Linked DNA regions of Homo sapiens: region 1 is reported to be linked to region 2. Evidence: microRNA targets listed by miRTarBase, many of them from high-throughput screens and not tested one by one. Region 2 holds a microRNA gene; the other region holds the end of a gene's coding sequence.
Evidence for each region. Region 2 holds the annotated microRNA hsa-miR-297 (AUGUAUGUGUGCAUGUGCAUG, at 1,091-1,111, shown strand). A microRNA usually pairs through its seed, bases 2 to 8, with sites in the 3' UTR of a target mRNA and lowers its output. Matches are read on the target gene's strand: a 7mer-m8 pairs with bases 2 to 8, a 7mer-A1 pairs with bases 2 to 7 and ends in A, and an 8mer does both.

Region 1 (3,129 bases), not on the chromosome of region 2:
CCTCCCCTCACCACCCCGCAACAGGCCCCGGTGTGTGATGTTCTTCTCTGTGTGTCCATGTGTTCTTATTGTTCACCTCCCACTTACTAGTGAGAATATGCAGTGTTTGGTTTTCTGTTCCTATGTTAGTTTTTTGAAGGTGATGGCTTCCAGCTTCATCCACGTCCCTGGAAAGGACATGATCTCATTCCTTTTTGTGGCTGCATAGTATTCCATGGTGCATATGTACTACATTTTCTTTATCCAGTCTATCATTGATGGGCATTTGGGTTGGTTCCATGTCTTTGCTATTGTAAACAGTGCTGCAATAAACGTGTACATGTGTCATTATAGCAGAATGATTTATATTTCTTTGGGTATGTACCCAGTAATGAATCCCAGCTACTCTTGCTTGAACCCAGGAGGCAGAGGTTGCAGTGAGCCAAGATTGCACCACTGCAGGCAAAAAAAAAAAAAAAAGAAAAACAAGAAAAAAGGCAGGGTGCAGTGAGCTTGTAATCCTAGCACTTTGGGAGGCCGAGGCAGGTGGATCACAAGGTCAGGAGTTCAAGAACAGCCTGGCCAACATGGTGAAACCCCATCTCTACTAAAAATACAAAAATTAGCCTTGCGTGCTGGTGCATGCCTGTAATCCCAGCCACTCAGGAGGCTGAGGCAGGCGAATCACTTGAATCCAGGAGGTGGAGGTTGCAGTGAGCCGAGATCGTGCCACAGCACTCCAGCCTGGGTGACAGAGCAAGACTTCGTCTTTAAAAAAATAAAAAATAAAAAAGACATGAATAAGGGTAAATAATCTCAGTTATGATGTTCAAGAGAGTTGCTGCTGTCTCACTCCAATTATACAAAGTCACAAAGCCCTTAAGTTGTGTGGTCAACCCACACCCAATGGTACAGGCAGAAAAAACTCAGCCTTCACTCTGATAAATTTATTAAAATAAGAACAAGCATCAGTTGTACATAGAAATAATCATTTGCACTAAGCATGGTACTAGAGCAGAAGAGCAGTTTTAAATGTATTTTTTAAGTCACAAAATATATCGGTTAAGGCACTATAATCCTGTCTCATGTTTTCAATAAATATGCTGGTTTTTTTTTTTAAAGGCAGTAGTGAGTAACCGATTACATGAGTATAGGCACTATACTATTAAAGACAAACTGCTGTGGCCATTGTGTGTAACTTATTCTCAAAAGAACTTTTGTTAGTTAAGATTAGTGTTTTTTAAGAATGAGAATATGAAAATTGTCACAGTTTTCTCTTTCTAATTTAGGTCTCTTCCAGAGAGACCTATATATTAAAAGGTGCTGTTTCTTCACTTTATTCCTTGGCAACAATGAATTATGCATAAAGTAAAAACATTGCCTCTCAGGAAGTAAAGCCATCAGAAGATGTCTCAGAACAGCTTGAAATCTTTGGAATAGCTTTTTTTTTTTTTCAACTGCAATAAAATCAGTGCAGTTCAGAAAACTCGACCTTTCAGTATCCGAGAAGGCAGCTTTGTAAGCACTTTCTGTTCGAGGAACTTTGTTAAGCAGCTGAGGGGAATCTGACCCAGCTCCTGTGTTGTCTGGTGTAGACAGGGCACCAGACTGGGAGTCAAGTGGCCTGGGTGCTTCTTCACTGCCACCAGCACTTCCTAATAATGGCAAATTTACATTTTGTTACGGTGCTCACAGCTTACAAAACACATACATGTGCATCATCACAGTTTGTTCACCTGTAAGATGAAAGGGTTGGATTCTTTGTTTTCTGTGGTCTTTTCCAGTTCTAGTGCCTTGCTAGTCTGATAGTGTGAATTATTTTTTATTACAGCTGGCGCTGCTGCTGCATCAGGGCCATCCTTTCTGCAAGACACAATGACCACAGCAAAGAGCGGGAAAGATAACTTTCCACGACATCGCCACATTGTTTGACGTCCTTTCATCAAATCACTGTATGCTATTAAAAGTCACCGTGTAACTGGAGTTACATTATTCACAGAGGCCATTAAGACTTCTCTTATTAGACAATATAACTTTTGTGACAGAAATAGGCTGCACAGATCTCTAAGATAAAATTCACGTTATTGCACATTTTGTTTCTCCAGTCAGGTCTTCAACACGTAAGATATGATTACAACATTAAGGCTTTGTACAGCATGAGGTAAAATATCAGGAAGAATCTTGATGTGAGCCACACCTCTTTTAGAGTGAGAAAAAAAAATTTTTTTTTTTGTCAATTGTACAGAAGAGGACACAATCTGATATATTTTACAACTGATAAATGACATTGGAAGAGTACAGGTTGTCAAGACATGCTGGAAAATATATTCACTTTTCAGCAAGTAACTAGACACATGGTCAAACAAAGCCTTAAGAAATCTGGGACCTGCCTGCTCAGGTGCAGTAGAAAATACATAGAGCTAATTTTATTATGAAATGTATAAGAATATTGCTTTTACCTGCTAAGATTTGGTCTTCAGTTTGACTTTGTATGTATATGTGTGTGTGTATATATATATATTTTTTTTTAATTATAGACACAACTTTTACTTCATTATAAAAGATTAAAATGCATCATTGAGAAGCAATTTAATACAAAGCATCTAATCATAAAAATAGAAAAGGTAATCAAAGAGCACTTCAGAAAGAAACTCTGGAGCCAAAGGCTTAGTTCTTCTCCAGGGACCTGTAATAATCTGTCAGGACCTTCCATGCTTTGGGGGCCATGAAGCCATCTGGGGGATTCTCTCCTTCCCGGGCGAGCTTCCTCATTCGAGTTCCTGAGATGAAGTCAAACTCATTGTGCCTGTTACAGGGTGGCAACAAAGAACTCAGTGTAGGTAAATGATATCTGCCTTAAGGATTCCTGGAGTAGGTTATGGTTTTTGAGACCCATGTTCTTTCTGTAAAATGCTGCATCTTCAAAAGTGGGCAGTCCTCTAAATCTTCAGGAACTTGCAGAAGAGAAGGGAAATAATGGCAGCTATCCATTTAGTATTTGCCATGCGCCTATACTGTTCCTGGGAAGTGTCTTGAGCCCAGAGTCTGTCTTCTGTTTCTCTGCCTACTTCTGTGAACCCTCAGCATGAGGAGCAAGTGCACCATAAATATTCATTGCAATCTCTTTCTATGTTGCTTCCTTTCACTTAG
Region 2 (3,268 bases):
AGGCAGTTTGTTTCCAGTTTTCCCTTTTTTTTTTTTTTTTTGAAACAGAGTCTTGCTCTGTCGCCCAGCCTGGAGTGCAATGGTGCGATAGGGGCTCACTGCAACCTCTGCCTCCCGGGTTTAAGTGATTCTCCTGCCTCAGCCTCCAGAGTAGCTGGGATTACAGGCACCCACCACCATGCCCAGCTAATTTTTGTATTTTTAGTGGAGACGGGGGTTCACCATGTTGATCAGGCTGCTCTTGAACTCCTGACCTCAAGCAGTCCACCCACCTCAGACTCCCAAAGTGCTGGGATTACAGGCATGAGCCACTGCGCCCAGCCCAGTTTTCCATTCTTAATCAGTAGGCTCTTGTTTGAGAATATTTTATTCTTAATGATGGTATTACTCATTTTTGTACTTTATACAATGGAGTACTTCGTGTTTGGAATGGCTTCCTTGTCCATATCTTTGTAAGGTTGAGGCCAATTTTTCTGAAGGTCTAAAGATCAGGCCCAAAAGAGAGACCACATAATCACTTTGCGTTCCTTCCTCAGTAATCTCCACAACTCATTTTGTGTCAGAAATTCACCACTGCACAATAACAGGCCAACAGTGGCCAGAGTTGGCTCCCATGCTGTAAGGTTGGAGGAAGGACACACCAGGCTTCCTAAGTACTTCACACAAGGCTGCCAAAGGATTAGCTGGATGTTCCTGTGCCAGGTTCACTTAACAGGAACATGGCAAGTTGTGGAGACTAATTGGTTCTCACAGGTATTTGGGGTAATGTAAAAATACAACTGCAGGAAAGGCAATTTCCCCCTAGAATGTGACTTGCTCCTGTAAATACAATATATTTTACAGGTTTTAATGCATGTGAAATATTTATCATTGGCATGAAAATTTAAAATATATACCATTTTCCCTTTCATGCCAAAGGGCTTCTATACCCATCACAATTAAAATTAAATATGGAGTAATAGCATAGCTTTTTACTCTGATTCCCTTTTCCCCATTTTGTAAATTCACAGCTTTAACCCATGGCCACCTGCCTGAACGATGGCTTATTTCCAACTCAAGATCTCTTTCTACATACTTTATGAACATATGTATGTATGTGTGCATGTGCATGTATGTGTATATACATATATATGTATTATGTACTCATATATCAAGGAGATTTCATTTCTATTTTTAATCTATGGTATAACTTCTGCATTGATCATATAGTCATGAACCACACGAAAAAGTTCCAGTCAACGACAGACCACAAATGTGACAGTTGTCCCATAAGAAGAAAATGGAGCTGAAAAATTCCTATCACCTAATGGCGTCGTAGCCATCATAATGTAATAGCAAATGCATTACTCATGCGTTTTTGGTGATGTTGGTGTAAATAAACCTACAGTGCTGCCAGTCATATAATATTACAGCACATACAATTATCCACAATACATAACACTTGATAATGACGAATATGTTACTGGCTTATATATTTACTATAGTAAACTTTTATTGCTATTTTAGGGTATACTGCCTCAACTTATAAAAAAAAAGTTAACTATAAAACAGCCTCAGGCAGGTCCTTCAGGAGGTATCCAGAAGAAGGCATTGTTATAGCAGATTACAGCTCCATTTGTGTTACTATTTCCAGTTTTCCACTCTTAATAGAGCTTCTACTGGGACAAGAGGTGGAGATGGAAGGCAGTGATACTGATGATCCTGACCCTGTGTAGGCCTAGGCTATGTGTATGTTTCTGTCTTAGTTTTTAACAAGAAAGTTGAAAAAGTAAAATATATATATATATATATGATCTTTGAAATAGAAAAAAGCTTATAGAATAAGAATATAAAGAAAGAAAACATTTTTGTACAGCGATACAATGTGTTTATATTTTAAACTAAATGTTATTACAGAAAGAGTCAAAAAGTAAAAAAATACAAGTTTATAAAGTAAAAAAGCCATGGTAAGCTAAAGTTAATTTATTATTTAAGAAAGAAGATTTTTTTTTAATTTAGTGTAGCCTAGTTCACTGTGTTTATAAAATCCACAGTAGTGGACAGTAATGTCCTAGGCCTTCACCTTCACTCACCACTCACTCACTGATTCACCCAGAGCAACTTCCAGTCCTACAAGCTCCATGCATGGTAAGTGCCCTATACAGGTTTACCATTTTTTGTCTTTTATACCATATTTTACCTTTTATATGTTTAGAAATGTTTAGATACACAAATGCTTGCCATTGTGTAACAGTTGCCTAAAGCATTTAGTACAGTAACGTGCTGACTGAATACTTATTCAGAATTCTGCTATTTCTGTTGGAGTGCTGCATCATAGTCCTCAGAGGCACACAGATCTCACTACCTAGGGTCTACAGGCATCAAGTCATAGGTCTGAGAGAGAGATTGAAGGATTAAAAAGAAGAGGGGCAAAGAGAAATTAGAGTCTAAAAGGGGAAAAGGGATCACATTTGCCAGCCCCACTCTATCTCCAAATGTCTTTTCTGATCAATCTCATAATCAATTGATAATAAAAGTAGCCAAAAGATTATACTAACTATATATCTAACCCTTAAATAAAAATCACTCTCTGCCAGGAACTATTCTAAGCTCTTTATAATAATAACACATTCCATCCTTATAACAACTTTATGACAAATTATAAATTGCCCCATTTTATATACCTTAAACTTTCCTTCTCACATCTCATTATTCTAAGCTAATCTAAAGAAATGTCTTATTTTCTTTAATTTCAAAGCAGATATTTCAGCAATACTCTTTTCCTCGCCACACCTTTTTGGGCCACTAAGAAGAAAACTAACTTGTGCCCCCTTTGAGTCCTTTCATTGAAGGAAACTTTGGGAGGCAAATAGAGCCATAACATCTGCCTATGGGCTTTCGACTGAAGTACTGGGTACTAAATCTCATCTCCCACATGGGAAGTCAGTTCCTGACTTGGGGTCAGGAAAGAATGAGAGGGAATCCCCTCAGCGGCTCCATAAATTATCTACCTATATGCACACACAGCATTCAAGGAGTCAAGAGTGCCACACATTCAGAATATGAAAATAACAGCAACAACAACATTTGATCTGAATTTATTTTTTAAACAAGAAAGAAAAGTATTTGATCTGAATATTAAAAAGGAATTAAAGGCCGGGTGCTGTGGCTCACACCTGTAATCCCAACACTTTGGGAGGCTGAGGTGGGTGAATCGCTTGAGCCCAGGAGTTGGAGATCGGGCTGGACAACAAAGTGAGACCCACTTTCTACAAAAAAATACAAAAAT

Region 1: the mRNA of PAPSS2 is a reported target of hsa-miR-297. Seed matches in the 3' UTR shown: 8mer at 2,467-2,474.

The regions. Positions count from the first base shown.
Region 1 is chr10:87,745,488-87,748,616 of GRCh38, reverse strand. PAPSS2 (3'-phosphoadenosine 5'-phosphosulfate synthase 2) reads right to left here. Exons shown (of 13, transcript NM_001015880.2): 13 at 912-2,785. The coding sequence ends at 2,647. Among named protein-coding and RNA genes, the nearest start is that of ATAD1, 71 kb to the left of the region's middle.
Region 2 is chr4:110,858,467-110,861,734 of GRCh38, reverse strand. It overlaps MIR297 (microRNA 297), which reads left to right and starts at 1,088; the gene lies at 1,088-1,153.